Homo sapiens: one gene and its partners. The protein of the gene in region 1 purifies or fractionates together with the protein of each later gene. This does not show direct contact. Each region holds a gene or a part of one and is shown in the gene's direction. Other genes may lie near its edges. The genes, in order: ALPK2, NAA16, NAA15, SPRYD3, CERK, C2CD4B and FBXO45.

The links.
Region 2: the proteins of ALPK2 (region 1) and NAA16 purify together in Homo sapiens (affinity purification with mass spectrometry; one large-scale study listed by BioGRID and IntAct). This does not show direct contact.
Region 3: the proteins of ALPK2 (region 1) and NAA15 purify together in Homo sapiens (affinity purification with mass spectrometry; one large-scale study listed by BioGRID and IntAct). This does not show direct contact.
Region 4: the proteins of ALPK2 (region 1) and SPRYD3 purify together in Homo sapiens (affinity purification with mass spectrometry; one large-scale study listed by BioGRID and IntAct). This does not show direct contact.
Region 5: the proteins of ALPK2 (region 1) and CERK purify together in Homo sapiens (affinity purification with mass spectrometry; one large-scale study listed by BioGRID and IntAct). This does not show direct contact.
Region 6: the proteins of ALPK2 (region 1) and C2CD4B purify together in Homo sapiens (affinity purification with mass spectrometry; one large-scale study listed by BioGRID and IntAct). This does not show direct contact.
Region 7: the proteins of ALPK2 (region 1) and FBXO45 purify together in Homo sapiens (affinity purification with mass spectrometry; one large-scale study listed by BioGRID and IntAct). This does not show direct contact.

What each region holds. Positions count from the first base shown.
Region 1 is NC_000018.10:58,622,592-58,626,091, reverse strand, and holds part of ALPK2 (alpha-protein kinase 2), read left to right. Parts: intron 1-3,500.
Region 2 is NC_000013.11:41,317,767-41,321,266, forward strand, and holds part of NAA16 (N-alpha-acetyltransferase 16, NatA auxiliary subunit), read left to right. Parts: intron 1-1,039; coding exon 1,040-1,144; intron 1,145-2,086; exon of another isoform or gene 2,087-2,315; intron 2,316-2,900; coding exon 2,901-3,058; intron 3,059-3,500. UniProt on the Homo sapiens protein: Auxillary subunit of the N-terminal acetyltransferase A (NatA) complex which displays alpha (N-terminal) acetyltransferase activity.
Region 3 is NC_000004.12:139,300,083-139,304,304, forward strand, and holds the start of NAA15 (N-alpha-acetyltransferase 15, NatA auxiliary subunit), read left to right. Parts: upstream 1-1,422; 5' UTR 1,423-1,695; coding exon 1,696-1,749; intron 1,750-2,333; exon of another isoform or gene 2,334-2,469; intron 2,470-4,222. UniProt on the Homo sapiens protein: Auxillary subunit of N-terminal acetyltransferase complexes which display alpha (N-terminal) acetyltransferase (NAT) activity. The NAT activity may be important for vascular, hematopoietic and neuronal growth and development.
Region 4 is NC_000012.12:53,076,591-53,080,780, reverse strand, and holds the start of SPRYD3 (SPRY domain-containing protein 3), read left to right. Parts: upstream 1-1,390; 5' UTR 1,391-1,447; coding exon 1,448-1,470; intron 1,471-3,519; coding exon 3,520-3,666; intron 3,667-4,190.
Region 5 is NC_000022.11:46,696,753-46,700,252, reverse strand, and holds part of CERK (ceramide kinase), read left to right. Parts: intron 1-787; coding exon 788-940; intron 941-3,500. UniProt on the Homo sapiens protein: Catalyzes specifically the phosphorylation of ceramide to form ceramide 1-phosphate.
Region 6 is NC_000015.10:62,163,035-62,166,477, reverse strand, and holds C2CD4B (C2 calcium-dependent domain-containing protein 4B), read left to right. Parts: upstream 1-1,192; 5' UTR 1,193-1,283; intron 1,284-1,453; 5' UTR 1,454-1,493; coding exon 1,494-2,588; 3' UTR 2,589-2,943; downstream 2,944-3,443.
Region 7 is NC_000003.12:196,582,160-196,585,659, forward strand, and holds part of FBXO45 (F-box/SPRY domain-containing protein 1), read left to right. Parts: intron 1-1,973; coding exon 1,974-2,159; 3' UTR 2,160-3,500. UniProt on the Homo sapiens protein: Component of E3 ubiquitin ligase complex consisting of FBXO45, MYCBP2 and SKP1. Functions in substrate recognition but also plays an important role in assembly of the complex.

The sequences.
Region 1 (3,500 bases):
GATACGTTACTCTGGGTTGAATGCTGCCAAAAAGAAAAACTGAAAATGCAAACATGTAAAGCAACTTGGGAGAACGTAATCACGTCATCTTAGGGTTGGCGAAAACGAAAGAATAAACACCTGACCTACATCAAATAAAACATTTAAACATGTTTCAAGCCCTTATTGGGATTTCCGCCTATGCACACCCACCTGGCATGGGCCAAATAGACAAAACTGATCAGGAGACTTCAGACATCAGCTCGAAGAGACAGGCAGCAAGTTGAAGAGAAGCTCAATTCCGAGAGTTCAGTTCTGGTTACACTGCACCCTCCCTCTCAAGGGCCAGCCCTTCCACTGCAATCCTCATGTCCTGGCTGCACAGCCCACCTTGATTTTCACTTGATTTTCAATCCTGCTCTTAGATAACCAGGCCCCTGCTCTTAAACACGCTCATTTGCTCCTCAACCCCTAGTTTAAGACCTTCCTGAGTCCAGCGGTTCTTAAACTTTCAAGTGCAACAGAATCTAAAGAGCTTGTTAAAATAAAGGTTCCTGGGCTCCATCCCCAGAGTTTCTGATTCTGAAGTTTCCAAGAATTTGCATTTCTTCCTTGTTCCCAGGTGATGCTGATGGCGTGGCCCAGGGGCCACTCTGAGAACCACTGCTGTAGCCATTTCTTCGGCCTGCAGTTCCTGAAGAAAACCTATTTGTGCTTATTCTTTTCAACCACCAAACTTTCCTTACTTCTCAGGGGGTGCCAGAGACACAGATACAGTGTGCCAGTGCTGTAAACATAAAAGGTTAACCCATCAGGTGCCCTGCAGGCAAGCAGTTTACAGTCTAGCTGCTGGGGGTGACACTGAGTGTGGGGACAATATGCTGAGGCTAATGGTCTCTAGTTTTTAGGGGGCTTTTTTTTTTTTTCAGCTGAGGGTATCAGGGAAGCCTTCAAAGAGAAACCAGCATTTGAGCTAGGGGTTTGAAAACCTGGCGGGGTTTCTGAACAGATTGAGATGGAAAGTGGTCCTTCTATGTAAAGGAAATCCAGAAAAGCAAACTAAAAACATGGAGGGCAGAAAGAGAAAGAATGAATATGGAAATCAGAAATTAGTGTGGTTGGGCTACGCTTTTCACACTTCTCCTCCCCCGCCTTCTTGATGATGAAAGAATTGTCAAGAGTTAGATGGTTTTGATTAAATCATTTAATCTTCAATCCATTACTTCTGTCGGTAACTTGATTGTAACTTGATGTCCAACATAGAGATCTGGAATGGAGAGCCAAATGATAGGAATTTCAGGCACTGTGGGCCAATGAGGAGAGGGTATGCCTTCTAGAAGCAACAAAGAAATCAACTTGGCTGGGCTTGGTGGCTCATGCCTGTTAATTCCAGCATTTTGGGAGGCCAAGGTGGGTGGATCACTTGAGGTCGGGACTTTGAGACCAGCTTGGCCAACATGGTGAAACCCTGCCTCTACTGAAAATACAAAATTAGCTGGGCATGCTGGCACACGCCTGTAATCCCAGCCACTTGAGAGGCTGAGGCAGGAGAATCGCTTGAACCCGGGAGGCAGAGGTTGCAGTGACCCGAAATCGTGCCATTGCACTCCAGCCTGGGCAACAAGAGTGAAACTCTGTCTCAAAAAGAAAAAAAAAAAAAAAAGAAAGAAATCAACTCAAACTACCTAAATCAGTAACAGGGATTTATTGCTCATACCATGGAAGAGTCCAGGACTTTGGTCAGGACCCTGCTGTTTCCTGCATTTCTGGAAGCTCTGCTCATCTCTGTTTTGGTTTTATCAGGCCAGCTTTAGCACGGTCTCAAGATAGCTATTGGCCTTCGCTGAGGTTCACATGCTTTCCTTTTTCTGTGGATGACGGAGTGAACAACCTAAGCTTTGCACTGACTTGGTCACCCCTGAACTACTTTTTGGAGAGTGCCACATGTGATTGGCTTAAACTTTGGTTAATGACTCAATCAGTGACCAAGAGCACCACAGTTTAGACCAATCAGAGCCAACAAAGCAGGAAGGGTGAGGAATCGCCAGCCGAGTCCCCAGGCTGCTGAGTGATGGAAGAGGCTTGATTAGGAGGACAAGCGAATGGCCACTTTAGGAGATTTTAGATATTTTGGAGAAAGGTCTCTGAAATCTTACCACTTCTTCCCTTAGTTATAAAGTTAGCCATGGGGAGCATTTATACTTTAAAGATTTAGGATATTACTGCTAAAGGTAAGCCAGAAAAAATTTAAAAAAAAATTAGGATGGGCATGCTTTAAAGTTCAGCCCAGACAAGTTAAAATGTTCTTCCACAGAACAGTCCTGCCTCAGAAATGGAATGAACCAGCCAGGCACGGTGGCGTGAGCCGCCTGTAATCCCAGAATTTTGGGAGGCCGAGATGGGAGGATCACTTGAGGTCAGGAGTTTGAGACCAGCCTGGCCAACATGGCAAAACTCTGTCTCTACTAAAAATACAAAAATTAGCTAGGCATGGTGGTGCATGCCTGTAATTCCAGCTACTCAGGAGGCTGAGGAGGGAGGATTGCTTGAGCCCAGGAGGCAGGGGTTGCAGTGAGCCGAGATTGTACCAATGCACTCCAGCGGGGTGAAAGAGGGAGACCCTATCTCAAAAGAAATAAAAAGAAATGGAATGAACCGTTGGCTGCAGTACTGCACCCTACGGCCCTTTTTATTGGATGTGATGTTCCTTATCTCTAAGGCACACTTTATTTACTAGAACAAGATTAGATAAAGAACCATTAAAAATCTTCTGTATTGGGAGTCTGAGGTGGGTGGGGGGATTGCTTGAGCCCAGGAGTATGAGAACAGCCTGGGCAACATAGTGGGACCCCATCTCTATTAAAAAAAAATCTTCTGGAAATAAGGCAAGTGGAGGCATTATATGAAAAGTGTTCCCCTAAGACACTCTGACTGGCTGGGTTGAAGGATGAGGGTAGAAGGTGGCAGAGATCAGACTACCACTCTCCTGCGAAACTTCCCTGTCCTCACACCACTGCTTTTTTCTGACTGGACTTGCTGACAGGTGGTTAGTTCAGCATAATAAGTTCTAGCTCAGTTAACTACACTCGGGCTCAGTTAACTACACTCAGGGTTGGTCTTATTTCTGTCGGGGGGCGGGGAGTGAGACAGAAGATAGCCTAAGATTTTCCAGGTTCTCCCCTATATTGTCTGATGCCAGAAATTCCACAGCATTTCACCTCTTGGTCACATTGAAAGTAAACATTCTCCCAAGAGGGATTAGTTGGAGCGGCTTTGGAGTTTTCATTACAGGGGAGTGAGGGTGGGAACATAAGGAGCCTGGGCAAATGTGGAGGATAAGAGGAAAACGAGCCAGAGAGGGGCTTTCTTTACTGTGAAATGTTTGTGATGACATTGACGACACATTCCTAGACTGGACAGAGCAGTCGGCCCATGACATTCAACTTCAAACCAAAGTGATTTTAATCAGTTAACTCAAGGAAGTGGGTCCGATTACAGCACTGTCACACTTTGTATGTTTA
Region 2 (3,500 bases), on another chromosome or scaffold:
GTGTTGGAGCGGGGTTTGGGCCACAGGATCACCATGTTCTGAATACCATAGAGTTTGAAAATCATTCTTCTTGTGTAATTCCCTTCTTGTGGATAATTCAGAGAATTATTTCATCCTAAACCATCTTTTATTAACTTCCTTACATGTTTTTTGTTGCCACTACCATCATCCAGTGTTGTGCTGTTGAAATGTGAACTGATGTTAATTAGCCTAAGTATAATTTGTTGGAATAAACTTGCTATCAAAAATGAAGTCTGTTCCAATATTGAATAAAGTGATTAGTGATTTTTAAATTATGTATTTGTCTTTATTAAGGTAGATTGAGTGTTTTTGTGTGGTTGTAAATCAGATTGATGATTGATTAGAATTGACCTTAGGTAAGAGCTGTGGAACTGCTATGGTAGATTTAATTCCATTAAGACTCATGTCTGCTTTGTAATTTTTTTTTTTTTTTTTAAGACAGAGTCTCGCTCTTGTTGCCCAGGCTGGAGTACAGTGGCACAATCTTGGCTCACTGCAACCTCTGCCTCCTGGGTTCAAGCAGTGCTCCTGCCTCAGCCTTCCAAGTAGCTGGGATTACAGGCACATGCCACCATGCCTAGCTAATTTTTGTTTAGTAGAGACGGGGTTTTGCTGTGTTGGCCAGGCTGGTCTCGAACTCTTGACCTCAGATGATCCACCCGCCTCAGCCTCCCTGAGTGCTGGGATTACAGGCGTGAGCCATTGCACCTGGCCTGCTTTGTTAATTTTTTCAGCAGAATAATATCAACCACTTTTACAGAGTCTTGTGAAGGGCAGAAACCATTTTAGCAACTCTGAAACTAAGGAATTTCAGAAAAGGACTTGGGCTGCTAAGCTTTAAGTAAATATTTAAATGTAGTTTTACTTTTTCTACTTGGAGAGAAGTTCAAACTGTGAGATTAAAAAGATGAATTGGAGCCATAGTAATCCTTCAGATCTCAACTATTAAAGTACTATTAAGAGAATAAGAGAATAATTTTGTGTCATTTGTAAATAGAGTTTAAAAATTATTTTTCAGAGACTTTGGCTATGAAAGGATTAACACTGAACTGTTTAGGAAAAAAAGAAGAAGCTTATGAGTTTGTTCGTAAAGGACTTCGTAATGATGTCAAGAGTCATGTCTGTATCCTTTTGCAGTAGTTAAATAGTTTATGTTTTAGCTAGTTTTTTCCTAATTCAAATTAAATTTGTACTATGAAAATTCCAAACCTACGTAGAAGAGAGAATTTAATGAACTCTGTGTATCCATTACTCAACTATAATCATTATCAACATTTTGTAATACTAGTTTCTTTTTTGCTTGTGCCCCTCCTCCTATATTAGTTTCATTTGTTCCCTACCCCGTGTTTATTTATTGGAATATTTTAAAGGAAATCTCTATAAAATGTGCTTACTTCTGTTGTGCTTAGTGTTGGAGAAAAGTTACTTTGGTAATTGTGACTTGAAACCCATTTTTTTCTTAAACATAATTAACTGGGTAATACTTTCCTGTTATTCCAAATACTGACTTTTAGTTAATCATATGTTAAAATTTGTGTGTCTTAAACTTTCTTTTAGACATTTGAGAAGAAAAACTTAAACTTATTTTAAAACAGATTTTACTTAATATATAAGTATGATATTGGTTCTTGAGCTTGGTTTCTGTTAACACAGAGACATAGCTGTTACTTAATTTGATCTTTATAATTGTGTTTTTCTTTGGGTAATATCCCAGTGTGTAAAAAAAAATTTTTTTTTGTTTTTTGGGGGGAGGGAGTCTCACTCTGTCACCCAGGCTAGAGTGCAGTGGCATGATCTAGGCTTACTGCAACCTCCACCTCTTGGGTTTAAGCGATTCTCCCACCTCAGCCTCCCAGGTAGCTGGGACTACAGGTGTGTGCCACCATGCCTGGCTACTTTTTGTACTTTCAGTAGAGATGGAGTTTCGCCATGTTGGTCAGGCTGATCTCGAACTCCTGACCTCAGGTGATCCACCCTCCTCGGCCTCCCAAAGTGCTGGGATTACAGGTGTGAGCCACCATGCCTGGCCAAAAAAAAATTTTTTTTTAAAGGGTGGAGCATTGAAATTGATTTTCATTTTTTTTTTTTTGCTTATCTGTATGTTTATCTGCATTTTTTTTCACATATTGCCCTTGCATTTTAGTTTGTTAACATGTAATTCACTTAGCCACGTACTGGTATTGAACACGAATAATCTTAGTAGTGTTTTCACATATTTAGCTTAGAGTTTTCTCAAATTACTAAATACTTATTTCTTTATCCCAGTGCTTACCCCAGAGTGAAGAGAAGGGCATGTAAGTATGATAGTTTTGTGGGGCTTTTGGCTCCAAGATATGCTAATACTTTAATTTATAAGAAATACAACTTATTTTTTGTGGCCTTTAATATAACTAGGGAAGTAGGTGATAGTTACACATTACTTTAGAATTGGTTGACTAAATTTGTTTCAAAAAGTAGTTGCAGTTTTTGTATATATTCTGTTTCAAGACATCATGATGAAGAATAGGTGAATGTTGAAGTTGCTGGGGTAGGAAAGTGATGGGATAGAGGGTAGAAAATGTGAAGAATTTTTGCTAAGAATTCTTTAAGGTTACTTAAAATATTACAGAAAATTTCAAACATGTACACAAGTAGAGAGAACAGAATAATGACCCCTTTCCCATGTGGCCATTACCCAGGTTCAGCAATTTGACAATTATCAACCCAGCCTGCTCTGGTTTCGTCTTTAACTTCCCCTCACCATTCCCCTCCCCCAGACTCCAGATCATTCTGAACAAATCCCAGGCAAAATACCATTTCCTTAATGTAACTTTTATATTAGATATGTATCATAGAATATTCTAGTGTCTGTGTATGTCTTTGTTTCCTTAACTTAATAGGTTGGCATGTATATGGACTCTTGCAGCGTTCTGATAAAAAATATGATGAAGCTATAAAATGTTACCGAAATGCCCTCAAATTAGATAAAGATAACCTGCAAATTTTGAGGGATCTCTCACTGTTGCAGATCCAAATGAGAGACCTTGAAGGTTACCGAGTAAGTACTTCATTCTTAAATGTACATGATTTTACAGTAGACAAAATTTAAGAGCGTGTCATTTCAGAATGAGGTGAGCATAAGCCAAAATCAAGTAGATTTGATTGTTCATTAGAAGGTGTATGTCGCTTGGGACCTTCCTTCTCAGTCATAGTTGTGGCACTTTGTACTTGAGTATTCAAAAAGAATAACTGGTGGGGTGTGGTGGCCCACGCCTGTAATCCCAGCAGTTTGGGAGGTTGAGATGGGAGGATCGCTTGAGGCTGGGAGTTAGAAACCAGCCTGGGCAACATAGGCCAGACTCCGTCTCTACAAATAAGAAAATTAGCCCGGTATGGTAGTTTACACCTGCAGTCCCAGCTATCCAGGATGTTGAGGCAGGAGGATCCCTTGAACCTAAGAGTTGAGGCTGCAGTGAGCCATGATTATGCTACTGCACTCC
Region 3 (4,222 bases), on another chromosome or scaffold:
TTACTAAGTAACAGCTTAAAAATGAATTATAAGCTTGTTCTTAGTTTTATAAAGTTAAGGTTAAAATACTGGCCATATTTCAAACTGAAACATAGTTTCCTGTATATATGATTTTTCTCAAACTTTTGAAGAGAGATCACAGAATTTAAGGAAACTCCAGGATTTGACTGTTAAAAACCTTATTTATGACCCCGGTGAAGGGCGAGGACAATCAATATAGCAGCTACAAAACCCAAGTTTATATTGGGAAACATGTATCTCAACTCACACCTTTCAGGGACAGTTAAGAGAAGTTTGAAAATTAAAATATCTTTGCAAATAAATTTAAAACAGTAAAAAACACGCACATATTGTTTAATAATTCATGATGCAAAGAATGCTACAGAGTGAAATCAGGATTTGGAAAGAGGTAATCAAAAACCAAAGGTTAAAAGTGGCTCATATAACTTGAAAATTTTTAGATCAATGGAATGCCACTTTGAAAAAGTTTTACGGTCAGCTGTTAATGAAATGACTTACATTTTTGGAAGGACTCCTATTCGGTATGTAGTCTGACCTCGCCTACTCGAGTAGTTCCCTCTAGTATCCTTGCCAGTCTTTGGCTTCTAAGATCTGAGAATTTCTGGGGATGGGGAGTTCGAGTCACAATATTAAGAACTAGTTTGAAGCCAGCTCCAGGGTAGTCTGTCTTTAAGTCTCCACTACTCCGCTCCAAGGTGACTCATAAGGTCGGTCCGTCAACTCTGCATTATATGGCCTCAACAACGAAATTAAAACACATACTTTAACCTCCAGAGCCTCCTTTGGCAGTGCAAATATGTCACTTCGGATCTGACTAACTACCTTTCCAGGCTGATCTTAAGCAACATTCACCAAATTACCGATACGACAGCCAGGCCCATTTCATCGGTCAAGCTCTTTCACGATTTCCAGACTCTGTTAAGCCCCTTTCTCCCCAGGGCTGTTAACAAGTCTCCACTGCGGTGAAGCTTTTTTCATTTTCCACTCCGCCTCTGCTCCTTAAATTAGGCATTTCGTCCATAATCAACTACAGCGCTTCTCAAACACCTACACCTGTATTTTAGCACTTTGGGCTCAAACGATGATCACACAGTGTGCGAGACTCTTTCCAAGGAATGAAAGGTCGATCTAGCAGGAAGGCGCCAGAGAGGCTGTTTTTGATGAGGAGGCGGTCTGAACCGTACTTGCCTAGCCTCCCGTAGCTCCGCGGGCGCTTCGAGGGTACCACGCACTGAAATGATGGGCGGGGCCTGCCCCGACCCTCCCGGCCTCCACAGGCAGGCCAGCCTCCAGGTTTCCCGGCAAGCTCCGAAACCCAGAGGAGGTGGGGAAAGGAGGTCACCGCGCCTGCGTGTTAGGAAGCGTGACCCGGGTGGGAAAACCCTCCGCGTCCGCCATTTTGGCTGCCTCTGTCGGTCTGTTCAGTTACCACGTGAACCGCCGACGGAGACCCGTAGTGGGGGAGGCGGCGGCAGCGTTAAGTGAGAAAGGAAAAAAGACAACGAGGAAAAAGGAGGTGTCCGGGTAGGGCAACGCGGCGACACCCGAGGCCTGGTGGTGGCGGCGGATCGAGATATTCAAGGCTGAAGCAGCTACGGAACGGCAGCGGCGGCGGTCGGACAAACTGACTGACCGAGCCGGGTGGTGGCGGGAGCAGCGGGAGCAGCCGGAACGATGCCGGCCGTGAGCCTCCCGCCCAAGGAGAATGCGCTCTTCAAGCGGATCTTGGTAAGTGTGAGGCTCCGGGCAAGCGGTGGGGAGGATTTAGCCGGTAACCGGGCCTGTCACCCCTAACCTCGGCCCGGCGGGCACTGAGCCACTCCCGCCCGGGACCCCGCCTTCATAGCTCTCGTCAGGCCGAATGCATTGCTTTGCTCCCTCTCTGTGGTTCCTACTATGGCCCGCGCGCCAGGGACCACAGGCTTCTTCATTCCATCCCCACGCTTGAGGCCCTGGTTCCGGACTAGGCCCCGACCTCCCGGCTTCTAGACTGCCGGTTCTCATTCTCCCCGATCTGGGGGAGAAGAGGCCCGGCCTTTGGCGGGCAAGTGGGCGACACCGGCAGGAGTCGCGGCCCGGTTGGTGTGGGAACCCTGCTGGCAGGTCGGGGTGGCACCCTTGGAAGGAACAGGTGGTGCGGATGCAGCAGGCTCATTCATTGCCTAAACGCGGTTCTCCCTCCATCATCTGTCCCTCCCTCTTCCTCCTCTCTTGGGATTCACCTGTCTCCGCCCGGCCCGGGGTCACCCAATGACCTGAGAGGAGGGAAAGAAGGAGTTCAGAGAAGGAAAGAAAGCTTTTCAAACGACTACCTCCTTGTAGTCAGTTGCATACTGGAGTCTTCAGCTCCTCTGCCTCCGTTGTTCTCGTTTCTGGAGTAGGGATGAGGCATTTATTTCTTAGTTTCCGAGCGGGAAACAGCCCCACCCCGTCACTCTTCTCGGGAGGTGGGGCCCATTGCGAGGGGGCGGTTCGGTAGGAAGTAAAAAGTTGAGTCTTTAGTTGAAACGTTGCAGACCTAGACTTTTCTTATACACTGAAGTATATTAACACATGCAAAAACTTACCAGAGAAATGAGAATATAAGAACTTTTGAGATGGATTTTGTTGACGCTAGCTCAGACTTATTCCCTACGGTTCAAATGTGTGCAGTTTGTATTTTTTTAAACCATAAATGCATTGATGTTTGCAGGGACTGTTTACATTGTAAAATATGTCCTGTAGCCTTGGAGCTATAATTAACACATTGTAGCACATTTTTTGTTTGGCATTTAGTATGTGGGTTCCCCCTTTCACGCAAACGTTTCCTTATGATAGAATTAACTGTATTTGCCAAATTTAAGACTTTTAAAATTTGGGATGTGTGTGTGAAAGTGTTAGCCTTTTCCCCCGCAGTTATAATTTATTTCACCTGTTTGAAAAGTAGAACAACTCTGGGGATTCAGTTTTTCTAGAAATGAATAATCATCCATTTGAACTAACTTTGATTTTACAAAAGTGTCCATATGCCCTACAGATTTAGTGAATTCATTTTGAAAAACATTAGAAAGTCACATGCAGTGTCGCAAAACTGTTACCTTGAAATTCTTACTGGAATTTTGTTTTGTTTTAAGACTAAGAGTGTAGGTGGAGCTGTAAAATAGTTTTAGGAAAAAAGTTACTTTTAAACCCTTAAAAAGACTAATTGGTGTGCAGGTAGAACTGTAACATAAGTTTAGAATAGCAATTTATCTTTAATCTCTTTTTCACAATTCTTTATTTTGAAAAAAATGAAACTGAAAAGTTGAGAGAACAAGGAACACTCATAAACCTTTACTTATATTTATTTGCCATATATGCTTTCTCTCTCCCTATGTATATGTATATATACATTTGTATAAAAGTAAGTTGTAGATGTAAAATTTATCTCTAGGCTGGGCACGGTGTCTCATGCCTGTAATCCCAGCACTTTGGGAGGCTGAGGCAGATGGATCACTTGAGGTCAGGAGTTCGAGACCAGGCTGGCCAACGTAGTGAAATCCTGTCTCTACTGAAAATACAAAAATTAGTCAGGCATGGTGGTGTTCGCCTGTAGTCCCAGCTACTAGGGTGGCTGAGGCACAAGAATCGCTTGAACCCGGGAGGTGGAGGTTGCAGTTCCAGCCTTGGCAACAGAGGAAGACTGTCTCAAAACAAAAACAAAAAACTTCATCTCTAAATACTTAAGCAAGCATCTCCTAAGAATAAGGACATCGTCTTGTATACTTATAACAATCATTCTCTAATATTGTCTAATATCTGGTTCATATGGAGATTTTCTCAAGTGTTAGCACTTTTTTTTGTTTGTTTGTTTGAGACGGAGTCTCGCTCTGTCGCCCAGGCTGGAATGCAGTGGCGCGATCTCGGCTCACTGCAAGCTCCGCCTCCTGGGTTGACGCCATTCTCCTGCCTTAGCCTCCCAAGTAGCTGGGACTACAGGTGCCCGCCACCACGCCTGGCTAATTTTTTGTATTTTTTAGTAGAGACGGGGTTTCACCATGTTAGCCAGGATGGTCTCAATCTCCTGACCTAGTGATCCGCCCGCCTCGGCCTTCCGAAGTGCTGCTATTACAGGCGTCAGCCACCGCACCCGGCCAAGTGTTAGCACTTTTTAAATAAATCAAACTTTTAATTTTGAGAAGACTGTAATAATCACGTAGTTTAAGGAATAATACAGTGCACT
Region 4 (4,190 bases), on another chromosome or scaffold:
CTTGACCTTTTAGTCACACAGAATTGGGGCTCTAATCCGGGTTTCTCTGTTTCCCATCTCATCTATTCCTATCACCCATTGCCGTTATGCCGAGTGGGCACTATTCACGGTATGCGAGCTGATGGCTTTCCTGGCACTCAACACGTTAGAGTACCTAGTGTGATAAGAATAGAATAGTCTGGGGTCTGAAGGAGCTCACAGTCTAGCAGAGACGGGTCTACACACACAAGTAACTCCAATAACGAAAGCAAGACGGTAATAAGTGTTATAAATGGCGGGGGGCGGTGGCTCACGCCTGTAATCCCAACACTTTGGGAGGCCGAGGTGGGCGGATCAAGAGGTCAGGAGATCGAGACCATCCTGGCTAACACGGTGAAACCCCGTCTCTACCAAAAATACAAAAAAAATTAGCTTGGCGTGGTGGCGGGCGCCTGTAGTCCCAGCTACTTGGGAGGCTGAGGCAGGAGAATGGCGTGAACCCAGGAGGCAGAGCTTGCAGTGAGCCGAGATCGCGCCACTGCACTCCAGCCTGGGCGACAGAGTGAGACTCCGTCTCAAAAAAAAAAGTATTATAAATGAGGTGCTACAGAGGAGAGGAATCTTTTCCGTCCAGAAGAGAGAGATATGGTGATGGGAAGGGAGCAAGGAAGTCCTCATCTAGGAGTCCAACCCCCCAGAATGGCAGGTAGGCACTCCCTAGTAGGTGTTCAATAAATATTCGTGTCTTCGTCCCTTCACATTCTAACCCCAGTCTAACTTTCCTTCAGCCTACCAAAGCCCTGTGTTCCTCCACAGAATGCCGCTTCGTGCCACTGTGCCTTCTGCATCCCCAGTTCTCTCCTCCTGGAATGGAATGTTCTTGCCAATAATGAGCGAGCGGTGCCATGAAACAGAGCTCGGGAGGGTACACAGCATAACAGTTAAGCGCGCAGGCTATCGAGGCCAGCCTTCGGCCCATCCGTAAAAAGGAGATAAGATTTATTTCATAAGGCTGCACCGTGGATTAAATGGACATTCCGGTAAAGCTTTTATTTCAGTCCAGCGCGGAAGGAGGGCTCAAGTAATACTCGCAACGTTTGTGCGAGCGTGGCCACCTTCTCCGCCCGTCCCGTCTCCCCGGCGCCGCTCAAGAGCCGCCCCCTGTCCGCCTCAGCGGCGCCCAGGCACCCAGCAGCGTCCGCGCTGCCACGTCGCCTTCGCTCACCCCAGCAACAGCCGGGTTGACCAGACCGGGGCCCTGAGCTGGGTACCCAGGGCACCGGGCCGCGCCCCACACCCTGCCTGCGCCTTCCGATTGGCTCCTGCAGGTGCCCGTCGTCAGAGGCCGTTGCTGATTGGCTTAGATGGGGGACGGGGCGGGCCTCTAGGAGTGAAGGAAAGGCGGGGACCCGGATGTGTGTGGTGGCGGCGGCCGAAGAGCTTGTGTGCGGAGCTGAGAGGCCTATGGATGAGGAGGACGCGGCGGCCCCGGTAGGCGGGGATCGGGGGCGGGGTCCCGGAGGCCTCGTATCTCCCCGGAGCCTGAAGCGGAAGGCGGGGGTCCTGGGCGGGGGCTCTGGGGCCAGGGGCGGGGCCCTGCGCTCTGGTCACTGGGCTTCTTCTGTTGCTGCACCCTCGGCCCAGTGCAGGGCCTGGGGAGACTGGGCGTAGGCACACGGATGGGCTGGGGCCCGGCTGCTCCCGGGTCTCATCTCAGTGATCAGGCCGTGCCCGGGGAGGAGACAGGGCCCAGTAGGGCCGCCACTCGCCGGTGCCAAGACTGTGGGGTCTGCGCAACCAGCATCTACCTGGGGTTGAGTCCTGGCTGAGTGCCCGGGAGTGGAATCTTAGGGCTGTCTGTCCCACAGGTGCCTACTCTTCTGGGCCACGTGGTGGGTTGTAGCTACTGCATAAGAGTCGTAATTTGCGTATTGGGATCAAATTCAGCCCAGCCAAGGCTTACTAAGCACCTACCGTGTGCAAGGCAATGTCAGGCCTCAAGAAAACCCCTGTCCCAGTGTTTAGGGAATGGGAAGAGAAGAGTACTTCACCTCTTTCTCACTTTTGGCTCCCAGGAAAAATCATTCATTCATTTATATGTAGGGACTGATGGTTGTTTAAATACCTGGATCATCCCACCCCCATCCATCGGCGCTGCTACCGACTTAGTGGATGTCATTTCTCATGTGAACTGCTGCAACAACGTCTGAATTGTTTGCCCACATCTGTTCTTGATCCTCTTGTGATCAGTTCTCCAACCAGCAGCTGGAATGATCTTTAGGAACTGATTAAGATCGTGGCTTTTTTTTTTTTTTTTGAGATGGAGTTTCTGTCACCCAGGCTGGAGTGCAGTGGGACGATCTCGGCTCACTGCAAACTCCACCTCCCAGGTTCAAGCAATTCTCTTGCCTCAGCCTCCTGAGTAGCTGGGATTACAGGTGCGCACCACCACGCCTGGCTAATTTGTTTGTATTTTTAGTAGAGATGGGGTTTCACCATGTTGGTCAGGCTGGTCTTCAACTTCTGACCTTGTGATCCTCCCACTTCGGCCTCCCAAAGTGCTGGGATCACAGACGTGAGCCACCAGGCCCAGGATCATGGCATTTTTTTTTCTTTTTTTTTTGAGACAGGGTCTTGCTCTGTCAGCCAGGCTGGAATGTAGTGGCACAATCAGAACTGACTGCAGCCTTGACCTGCCAGACTCAAGCCATCTTCAGTCTCCTTAGTAGCTGGGACTACAGGTGCATGCTGCCACACCTGGCTCATTGTTTTAATTTTTAGTAGAGATGAGGTCTCACTACGTTGCCCAGGCTGGTCTGGGTCCTGGCCTCAAGCGATCCTCCTGCCTCAGCCTCCCAAGGTGCTGGGATTGCAGGCATGAGCCATCATACCCAGCCAATCATGGCATTTCCTTGCTTACAACCCTCCAGAAATTTCCATCTTGGAATAAAATCCAGAGTCCTTACCATTTCATTGTCTGTAGGGCCATGATCTGACTCCTGCCTTATTCTCATCTTGTACATTCTCCCTCACATTCCCTATATACCAGCTGTCCATGCCTTTTTCTGTTTCTCTACCATGCCAGCTCTCTTCCATCCAAGGACCTGTGGCTGCCCTTCCTGCCTGGAATATGCCTGGCTTGTCATGCCTAGCTCCTTTTCAACTCAAATGTCACCTCCTCAGAGAGACCGCCTCTGTCCACTCTATCCACTGCCTCCAGATTCTTTATCATATCACCCTGTTCTTTTCTCCACTGCCTGAAATTATGTCTGTTTATTGCCTGTCGTGTCCACCTCCCAGCCTGTGAGAATGGGAATCCTGTCCATCTTGTTCACAGCTCCATCCCTAGCACGGAGAAAAGCACACAGAGTAGGTGCTTGGTAAATGTTTGTTGAATGGAAGAAAGAAGATGAGGGTTGTTGAGGTCAATCTGGGCAGCTGGCCTCAAGGCCAGTGCCTTCTCTACCTTCTGGGTCACAGAGGCTGAGGTGCTTTACCTAGGGCCCTGCTTTCTCCTCAATCCCCTTCTCCCCTTGGCAGGTTTGTTCTCATGAACAAGATGGATGACCTCAACCTGCACTACCGGTTTCTGAATTGGCGCCGGCGGATCCGGGAGATTCGAGAGGTCCGAGCTTTCCGATATCAGGAGAGGTTCAAACATATCCTTGTAGATGGAGATACTTTAAGGTGAGTTCAGGAGAATGCTTCCACATTTTCTTCTCTGTTCCAGATCTTAGAGAGGAAAGGGTTTTTTTTTTTTAACTTTTATTTTTTCAGAGAAGGGGACTGTGCACTGCACAGGGAAGGGCGATGCTCTTGACTCCAGAGGCCTTTCTTTTTCTTTTTTTTTTTTAAGACAGAGTCTCGCTCTGTCACCCAGGCTACAGTGCAGTGGCGTGATCTCAGCTCACTGCAACCTCCGCCTCCTGGGTTCAAGCGATTCTCCTGCCTCAGCTTCCCAAGTAGCTGGGATTACAGGCGTGCACCACCACATACGGCTGATTTTTTATATTTTTGGTAGAGACAGGGTTTCACCATGTTGGCCAGGCAGGTCTTGAACTCCTGACTTCAAGTGATCCACCCGCCCAGAGGCCTTTCTGAGTGGAGCAGTGTGTGCTGCTTCACCCTGCACTCACCTCTGCCTCTGTCACTGGGTGGCTCTGTCCTCATCCAGCAAGGAGGGGATCCAGCTGGGTAGGGGAAGGGATCAC
Region 5 (3,500 bases), on another chromosome or scaffold:
CCCAGCTCATTTTGTATTTTTAGTAGAGACGGGGTTTCACCATGTTGACCAGGCTGGTCTCGAACTCCTGACCTCAGGTGATCCACCCACCTCAGCCTCCCAAAGTGCTGGGGTTACTTACAGGCGCGGGCCACCGCACCTGGCCTATTTTATTTTTTTTGAAACAGAGTCTCACTCTGTGTGTGGCCCAGGCTGGAGTACAGTGGTATGATCTCGGCTCACTGCAACCTCCGCCTCCCGGGTTCAAGCGATTCTCCTGCCTGAGCCTCGCCACTAGCTGGGATTTCAGGCACACGCCACCATGCCTGGCTAATTTTTATATGTTTAGTAGAGACAAGGTTTCACCATTCTGGCCAGCCTGGTCTCAAATTCCTGACCTCAGGTGATCTGCCCGCCTCGGCCTCCCCACGTGCTGGGATTACAGGCGTGAACCACTGCACTCGGCTTGATTTTGTATTTTAAAATGCCATGTACTTTTTCTTCATTCTAAAACCACCGTCCTTTCAGTTAAAGATATTTCATGAGCCTCACGGATACACTCTTGTTCAGTCCCCACAGGATAGCTCCCCGAGCCTGTTTTAGAAATTTGAGTGGAGTTCAGTCATTTGAATAAAAAATATGGCATCCAACACCCCAAGAGAGAGAATCCTTGCACTGAATGCGTTCTGTTTGTTTCACACTTTTTAAAAGTAACTCCCACGTTTGCAAAGTGCTATTGAAGGGGATGGAGTGGATGGGGCGGGGCTGGAGGGGGGCTGCCTTCCCTCACGGCCGTTCTCTCCCACAGGGGACTCGCTGGCCATGGATGTGTCCTCAGTCCACCACAACAGCACACTCCTTCGCTACTCCGTGTCCCTGCTGGGCTACGGCTTCTACGGGGACATCATCAAGGACAGTGAGAAGAAACGGTGGTTGGGTCTTGCCAGATACGACTTTTCAGGTAACTCAGAATAATGCAGACTCGCTCCCCGCTGGTCGTGCCCCGACTGCCTTCACAGATGTTACCTGACTGAATCCACTGAGCACCGTCAGAGGTGGGCCCCCACCTGCTCACAGACGGGAAGCTAAGGGCCTCATGAAATGTGCCGGGGCCAGAACGTGGCAGGGTCTGGACTGGAACCTGGATTGCTCTAAACCAGATCCTGCCCCCTGGACCCAAGCATAAGCCACAGAGTAGACACCATGACGGACGCAGTTCACTCCAGAACCCCAGGTGCTGGAACCCCAAGACGCCAGGCCACCAGCCTCTCACATCTGGTAGGCAGGTGACAGAGGCCACCCCAAACTGTTCAAGTGGAAGTATTAATTGGAAAAAAAATAGTTTTTAAAATATATTTTTTAAAAATTTTTTTGAGACACAGTCTTCCTCCGTCACTCAGGCTGGAGTGCAGTAGCACGATCACGGTTCACTGCAGCCTTGACCTCCCAGGCTCAAGTGATTCTCCCACCTCAGCCTCCCGAGTAGCTGGGACTACAGGCACATGCCACCGTGACCAGCTAATTTTTTTTTTTTTTGTATATTTTTGTAGACAAAGGGTTTTGCCCTGTTGCCCAGGCTGGTCTCAAACTCCTGAGCTCAAGCAATCTGCCCACCTCGGCCTCCCAAAGTGCTGGGATTACAACCATGAGCAACCATGCCTGGCCTGTAAAACAATAGTTTTATAATCACTCTGAGCTTATTAGTCAAAGTGGCAAGAACTTTGTGCAGAAATTCAGCCTGGGATATCTGTGTGGAAGCTCTTCTGTAACTTCAGGCACAGGTATCCTTTACTTCATTCAACAAGGTTGCGTGGTTTTGTTGGGGTTACACCGTAGCTAGCCATACAAGTGAGATACACTCAGCACGTATTTGTTGAGCCCCTGCTCTATGCCGGGCCTGGTTTTTGAGGCAGGGACGTGTCCATGAACAAAACAGGCAAGATCCTGCCTTCCTGCGGCTCGGCCGCAGTGGGCACAGAGGAGGAGGAGTGGGAGCGAATGCCACGCCGCACTCCCTGAAGCCCAAAAGCTTTCATTCTCCACAGTGCTCTTCTCACCCCAGCAGGTGCTCCTGCCCCACTTTATAGCGGAGAAAACAGGCACAAAGAGGTTGCCCGCATCCTGCCTCACTCTTTCTTGAGCCCAGTGGTCCTCAGACTGTGGTGGGCACCTGCATCCTCTGGAGGGCTTGGTAGAACCCAGGCTGCGGGGACCCCCCAGAGCATCCAACACGGCAGGTCTGGGTGGGCTTCGGAACATGCAGGTCCTCCAGGCTCCCGGGGCTGCTGCTGGGGCCTCGGGCCAGGCGGCGGTGACCTGTTACCCGACCACAGAGTTTAGAATGAACCAGAAATGAAGGCTGGTGCCAGTTCAGACACAAGAGTTGCAGTCTGCACACATCAGGCAGTGGGTGCGACGTCACCAGCTTTTAAACGCTGGAAAAGGAGAACTTTAAAAATACATAGAATTGGCCAGGGGCAGTGGCTCACGCCTGTAATCCCAGCACTTTGGGAGGTCAAGGCAGGTGGATCACCTGAGGTCAGGAGTTCAAGACCAGCCTCGCCAACATGGTGAAACCCTGTCTCTACTAAAAATACAAAATAAGTCAGGCATGGTGGTGCACACCTATAGTCACAGCTCCTCGGGGGGCTGAGGCAGGAGAATTGCTTGAACCCGGGAGGCAGAGGCTGCAGTGAGCTGAGATCGTGCCACTGCACTTCAGCCTGGGCAACAGAGCGAGACCTCTGTCTCAAAAAAAAAGAAAAGTAGAATTTCAGCCTGGGCGACATAGGGAGACCCCATCTCCACAGAAATTAAAAACAAAATTAGCCGGGCACCCCAGTTACTCGGGATGCTGAGGCAGGAGGAGCCCTTGAGCACAGAAGGTGGAGGCTGCAGTGAGCAGAGATCAGGCCACTGCACTGCAGCTGGAGCGACAGCCAGACCCTGTCTCAAAAAAAAAAGAAAAGAAAGAAAGAAGAAAATATGTAGACCATGAGGTGTGCCATTCTCGCTGCCCGGTCGACTTTCCCGCCTCTTTACAGTTCGCTTTCAGATAAATCTGTATCAAATTAAATCGAGTAATTCCTGATACTAAAATCTTAACCCTTATGAGAGAAAGAAATAGTGATTTGGCAAACTTTACGAAGCTTGAAAAGATTTAATGAAATTAAAAACTAGTGTGGCTTGAAAATTAAAACCTAAGAAATGGCAAAGTGAGGTATTTATCTAAGGCTTATTAAGAAAGGGAATACCGAGAAAATTAGAGAAGCCGCGAGAATTTTAGGAAGCGGTTTGGGTTGTGCCATTCTCCCGACTGCCCTTTGTTGAGCCCAGTGTGGCTCTGCCTAGAATGCCCCTGGGATGCCCCCTCCCTGTCCCTGCCTGCTGGGGTGGGGTGGTGGGCAGCCCCCCTGCATGCCTGGCCCCCCCCTTTGCCCTCAGCCCATCACCACAGGCAGTGGCTGCAGCTCTGTCCCTCCCACCAGGATGAGAGCCCCGAGGCAGGAGACGCCTTCCGG
Region 6 (3,443 bases), on another chromosome or scaffold:
GAGACAAAACTGTAAACCGAAAATTCCAAAGCAGCATGCGAACCGCAACAATGGTGGCCCCTAGATGTAGGAAGGAAATGAGGAGGGACTGAGGAACTGGAGCAGGGGAGTTCCGCGGCGGCTGGGTGGGTGAAGGCACCTGAAAGGGACGATGCGTGGGCTGAATTACAGAAAATAAACAGGAATTCCTATATAAAGAAAAAGCAGAGAAAAGGCATTTCAGATCACAGGAAGCATCACATGCAAAGCCAAAGAAACAGGAAATTGCTAGTTCCAGCTTCTGCCATTAACTGGCTCTTTTTAACCTTTCTGGAATTTCCTCAGGTCCCTCTGGGATTTCAGTCTTCACATCTCAGAAAATGAAGGTCGGGGGTGGAAAGAAGGAATCTATATTTCGGGAAGGTGCTTTCTAACTGGATACCTCCGTGCTAGAGCAAAAAAAAAGGGGTAGTTTTAAAAACGTCAAGTGTTATTTTAGGGCAGGAGCCAGAAGCCCCATGTTTTGTAACTATCAAGATGACAGGCAGAGCCTGCAGCCATTCAGAGGCTTTCTCCACTTGATCTTAGCCAAAAGACCAAGAAGCGATCAGAAATTTTCTCAACGATTAATTTACCCACTTCACCAGTACTTAGGGCATGGACTGAGCCAGGGCCTATGCTATCAAAAAGAGCACAGTCTAGCAGAGGGAGACAGACAGTAAATAAGTATATAAATAACTGGAAACCATATTGGTCTGCACGCTGCGAGTGCGTGGGGACAGGAAAACAGAAGCTCCCAGGACGTGCAGGTCACGTCCAGGTTACATGCAGGGTGAGTGACGGTTTATCTCCTAGCCAAATTAACTTCCTGTTTCCTCGTCCAGCCTCACCTTCTCCAAGAAGCCAGAAACATTTTCAGCCGCCAATTTTTCCTTGGCAGGACGACAGGGTGCCCTCTCTTCACCTGCAACCTTTCCCAGGCCTTGCCTGGGGCTCCACGCACTCACTGCAAATGCGGGTCCCAGAGCTGACCACAAGGTGCCTGCTCCCGCGACAGCTTCGCGCAGACCTGAGCGCCCAGTGCATGCAGACCTCCCGGCGTCGTGGGAGAGGGTGGCGGGAAGGCGGGCTGTGCAGCACCTCCGGGTTGGGCCGCTGGCGGCTGGGCGGGACTCAGCCTACGGTATAAGAGGGGAGCGCCACTCTCCTGGCCGCAGTACTGAAGGTGGCGCCTCGGCAGCGGGCTAGAGGCCACTGGCACTGAGCTTGCAACCAGATCCAGAGACACTGAAGAAGAGAGAAAGGTCTGAAGCGGGGCTGATTTGTTGTGGGTGCAGGGGAGAGGAAGGCTGGAACTGGTCTGGGGTCTTAAACACGTGGGGGACGTTTACAGGGTCTGGGGGAGGGATCCAGCCGCGTCGAGGGGCTGCAGCAGCTCCAGGCGCCCAAACTCAGCAGCTTCTCTCCCCCGCAGGCGCACCTCTTCCCGCCACTCCTAGCCCCAGCCTCCAAGGATGCGGCTCCTCGAGAAACTCTGTTCCTCGGCCGCAGGCAGCTCCGCGCCGAAGCCCGCCTTCGCCAAAGTGCTCACGCCGAATCGCATCCCCGAATTCTGCATCCCGCCGCGGCTGCCGGCCCCTTGCACGCTCGAGTCTCCAATCCGGGCCGCCGCCGTGCCCCGGCGCTGCGCCGCTGAAAGCGACCTGTGGCCCCGCGCGGCAGACGAGGACGCCGGCCGCACGGACTGGGACCCGCGCTCGCAGGCAGCGCTGTCACTGCCGCACCTGCCCCGTGTGCGCACCACCTACGGCTTCTGCGCGCTGCTCGAGAGCCCGCACACGCGCCGCAAGGAGTCGCTCCTGCTCGGGGGCCCGCCCGCGCCCCGGCCCCGGGCCCACAGCTGCGGCGGCGGCGGAGGCCCGGACGCCCCCCTGGGGACCCTGTGCGGCCCGCGAGGTCCGGGCCCGGCCACCCCCGCGGCCCCCGGCGGTCCCCGCCTGCCCCAGGACGCGCTCGCTGCGGGGCCCCGCCGCTGCCGCCTCCTGCGCGTCCCCGACGGGCTGCTGAGTCGCGCGCTGCGGGCTGGAAGGAGTCGCCGCCTGGCCCGCGTCCGCTCCGTCTCCAGCGGGAACGAGGACGAGGAGCGCCGCGCGGGATCCGAGTCCCCGGCCCGGGCCCCCTCCTCGAGCCCGCTGTCATCCAGGGCCCCGCTTCCTGAGCGCCTGGAGGCCAAGGGCACCGTGGCTCTGGGCCGCGCCGGCGACGCCCTGCGCCTGGCTGCTGAGTACTGTCCGGGAACCCGGCGTCTCCGCCTCCGGCTGCTCCGCGCGGAGAGCCTGTTCGGAGGCGCCCCCGGGCCCCGCGCCGTCCGCTGCCGCCTCAGCCTCGTCCTGCGGCCGCCGGGCACTGCGCGTTGGCAATGCAGCGCTGTGGTGGGGCGCAGCCGCAAGGCCTCCTTTGACCAGGACTTTTGCTTCGACGGCCTCTCGGAAGACGAGGTGCGCCGCCTGGCCGTTCGCGTCAAGGCCCGGGATGAGGGTCGCGGCCGGGATCGGGGCCGCCTGCTGGGCCAGGGTGAGCTGTCCCTGGGCGCCCTCCTGCTGCTCTGAGGGCCCAGCCCTCCCCGGGGCGCTCTGCCCTGGAGACTCCGGACACTGACAGCCGCGTGGTACAGAATAAACGTTATTTATTTTTTTATTTATGATACTGCTTTATTGACGTTTTACTTCCTCACCATCCACATTTGTCATCGTCTATTGGTAAAGAAGAAAAAGATAATGACTCCCTGTTCTGTTCACAGGACCCCCATATCTCTTTCCAGACCATTTTTGCATTCCAAGGAAAAATGGGTTGGCTTGGGACTGGGAGAGAAAGGAAGTACACCCATCTGCATTGTTTTTAATTCCTTCCGGTTTTCTATCAATGTTACAGTTTTTTTTTAATAAAGCAAGTTATTCATTCAGAGTCATGCCCAACGTTACGATTCATATACACAGCTTTACATATTGATGCGGCATAGGTAATATCCTAATTTGTGTTTGCGCACGCGCACACATCAGAGTGAGACACTTGTATTATAAGGATGTATATACCCTGGTGGGAAGAAAATTTTTTTGTAGAAAGTTTTCTTTTGGAAGTGAGTTTTTCAAAAATTGGTGAGGAAAACAGGGAAGTGGAGGACCTTCCAATAGATGGGTTATCTAGGGAATAGCTATTCCTGGGGTCTCTCTCTTCCTTACCTAGGAAATCTTAGAAATCTTTCTTGCCTCTGTAAACAAGATGATACTTTTTGTGGCATTTTCTCACCTAGCTATGTATCTAATTACACACTAATTAGCTTTGCGGTAGGATTTCCTAGATGAGTTAAAAAGTAAGTAGTCAGTTTCTTGAACACTGGGTTCTAGAGAGTGTTTTTAAAAATCCAATTGATTTTCATTTGTTAATTCAACAAATAAACCTAAGTC
Region 7 (3,500 bases), on another chromosome or scaffold:
TGTGCGTGCTGTGTGCTCAAAGGTGAAGCAGATTTGCAGATTTCACCAGGAGTAATCGTTACTTAGTTTCAACTTCTGTAAAATAGGGATAGTTCCTAGGATTAGTGTGAGGATTAAATGGGATAATACAAATACGACACAACACAAATACCCAACAAAATTAGCTTTTCATTTCTACTTTGTTAATATTTTGTTGGTAGGAGTGGTGGTGATGATGATTTGGAGGTTCTTAGATCCATAAAATGAGGTGTGGGTTAATCTGTGAGGTGGGCAAAGGGAGGAAAAAAGCAGATGTTGGCAGTTACTGTTAACAGGAAATACAGTGAAGGAAAGTAAATGACAATAGTAGGGGTTATAATCAGGTAGAATTAAATTTTGATTGCAAACATTAGGACTTTCTGTTTCCAATTTTGTAGATGCAACATCTTTTTATAAAGGCAAACTAAAAAGATGAAACATCCTTTTTTTTTTTTTGCTTACTTTTCCAAATGGGAAAAAACTGGATATATTCTGCTTCCAGTTTCGTTTAATAATCAGTGCTGCTGTTTTTTATAACAAACAGGTGTTTCAGAGTTGTGAACCACAAATTGTTTAATAAGCCTATTCTATATTCTACATTAGAATTTGTAGCCAGATTGGATTATTCATGATTCCACATTACATGTGGAACTGCTTTGTAAACTTTAAAAGCTGTGTGTCTTACTAAGGTGATTTTTAAAATTGTGGTGAAACATACATATTTATTATTTTAACCATTTGTAAGTATACAATTCAGTGGCATTAAATACATTCACACACCTCTCTCTATACCCAAAACTTTTTCCTCACCCCAACATAATCTCTATTATGTTCATTCCCTATTTCCTTCACTCCCCACCCCTGGTAAACTCTGCTCTACAACTATATATATTTGAGTATTCTAGATACTTTATATAGGTGGAATCATACCATTTAGCCTTTTGTGTCTGGCTCATTTCACTTAGCATAATATTTTCAGGGTCTATCTATGTTGTAGCATATATCAAAATTTCATTTCTGTTTATGGCTGAATAATATTCCATTGTACGGCCGGGCGCGATGGCTCATGCCTGTAATCCCAGCACTTTGGGAGGCTGAGGCAGGTGGATCACGAGGTCAGGAGATGGAGACCATCCTGGCTAACACGGTGAAACCCGTCTCTACTAAAAATACAAAAAATTAGCCGGGCGTGGTGGCGGGCACCTGTAGTCCCAGCTACTGGGGAGGCTGAGGCAGGAGAATGGCATGAACCCGGGAGGCGGAGCTTGCAGTGAGCTGAGATTGCACCACTGCACTCCAGCCTGGGCGACAGAGCAAGACTCCGTCTCAAAAAAAAAAAAAAAAAAAGTTCCGTTGTATGTATAGTATAGTAATTTGAGAAGCTGATTTAGATTGCTCTTTTTGGTAAAATATGCCAAGTTATAGATTTTAGTGTTAACCTTAAGAAAAACCTTTAAACAAAGAGTAAATAAAATCAATCTAGGTAGTGTTCAGGTGGAACATTTAAATTGTAAGTAATTAAGTGTAGATTCCATGTGAGTCTTAAAAACAAAACTATCAAAGTAAGCATTTGTGATGTGTTACCTAGGCTGGAGTGCAGTGGGCAGTGGTGCGATACCAGCTTTGCGCCACCACACCCAGCTAATTTTTGTATTTTTAATAGAGATGGGTTTTCACCATGTTGCCCAGGCTGGTCTTGAACTCCTGGGCTCAAGCAATCCGCCCGCCTCAGCCTCCCAAAGTGCTGGGATTATAGGCATGAGCCACTATGCCCGGCCAGATGTATGTCCTTTTTTTATAGATGTTTCTTCCTGACTAGAAAGCTTCCCTTCTGATTTTTCTAGATAGCTTTCAGGATAATATTCTTAATATTTTCAACTTCTTGATTTGTGTCTTGTTTCTTCTAGCTACACCCTTGGCAGATTTTCTTCTAACCTTTTGATATCTGTTTGCAGATAGGAGAAAGAATTCGAGTCATCTTGGACATGGAAGATAAGACTTTAGCTTTTGAACGTGGATATGAGTTCCTGGGGGTTGCTTTTAGAGGACTTCCAAAGGTCTGCTTATACCCAGCAGTTTCTGCTGTATATGGCAACACAGAAGTGACTTTGGTTTACCTTGGAAAACCTTTGGACGGATGACAGTGGCTTTCTTGTGATGACAGACAGAATGGAGGAGAGATCTGCTTATGGGAAGTAGAACCATGAAGTGACTGTCACACATGCATGTCCAAGAAACATCCTGAAAACACATGAAGTCGTAAACTGGAGAAGCAGCTCTACAGCAGAGATTATCTTCGTGTTTCCTCTTTCTACTGGGCCAGAAAAATCCTCAGGGTTGCAGTTGGTTGAGTGGGCAGTTGACATATGCATGTTGCACCCGATGTTGTCTCTAAGTTAGCAATGTGTTATTTCCAGCTTTAAAGGTGAGATTGTAGAGATGCTGTCAAAGGGATAAGGAAATAGCAAGATTTTTAAGTAGTGTGTTTGTGAAGACTGATCCCATTTTACAACTGCCTGTTCTTTCTCCAGTCCTTTTTTTTCCAGCCAGCTTGACTATTAGAAAAGTATGAAACTGGTTGGGTTTTATTTAATATTTTTAATATATTGAGAAGCATGGTCTGCCTGGACTGCACTTCTCTAAAAGTGAGATATAAAATTGTGCAGCTATTTTAAAAGTTGTATATAATATGTGTGTAAAAAAAAAAAACTGTAAAAAAGAAAGGACAAACAGGTTGTTTTGTTCTAGTTCTAATTTCTTAAAAACCACTACATGGTTACAAAATTGGAATAACATTTGGGGACAACTGGGTTAACTACAAAGAAGAGGATTTTAAGAGGAGATGTGTTGTATTGACTCATTTTGTATTATTTTTGGCTTACAGTTCCCATAGCTGTTAGAGTCTGGTTTGTTTTTGTTTTTACTCTCAAAATCATAGTAAAGATCTCTCAGTCTCCTGGCTAAAGATTGAAGGAAGGCAAATCTATTTCTAATTATACATATATCAGTAAGGATGATCTCAACATAATAGTAATGTGTATCTTTTGGTATCCAGTTTTATTTTTGGCCTTCTAAGAAAGTGTCTCATAACACAGAACATTGCCATTTGCTCTTGTAGGCCTCAAATATGAAAGCTATTAGTCATAGAGCCTAGGAAAAAAAGAATTGATTAATGGTCCTTTTATTTTGTAACCTTATAAATGCTGTAGATATTATCAAAAAAATTTTAATTTCATATTGTTTACATCATGCAACTAATCTAAGCCTCAAACTCGTTATTGGGGCTATAAAGAAAACGTTTACTTACCCAGCTGAAACAGGTTAAGAATATTCTTAATCTCATTATAGATAATTGCCCCCATGGGACTTGAAATACAACACCTTGTGCTGAAAACTTCAGGTTGGCAATATTTGAAGGTTTCGTTGTAGAAGAGTTTAACATTAACTCCTATTTTGACTTACAAATCTTGTTTCTCATCACT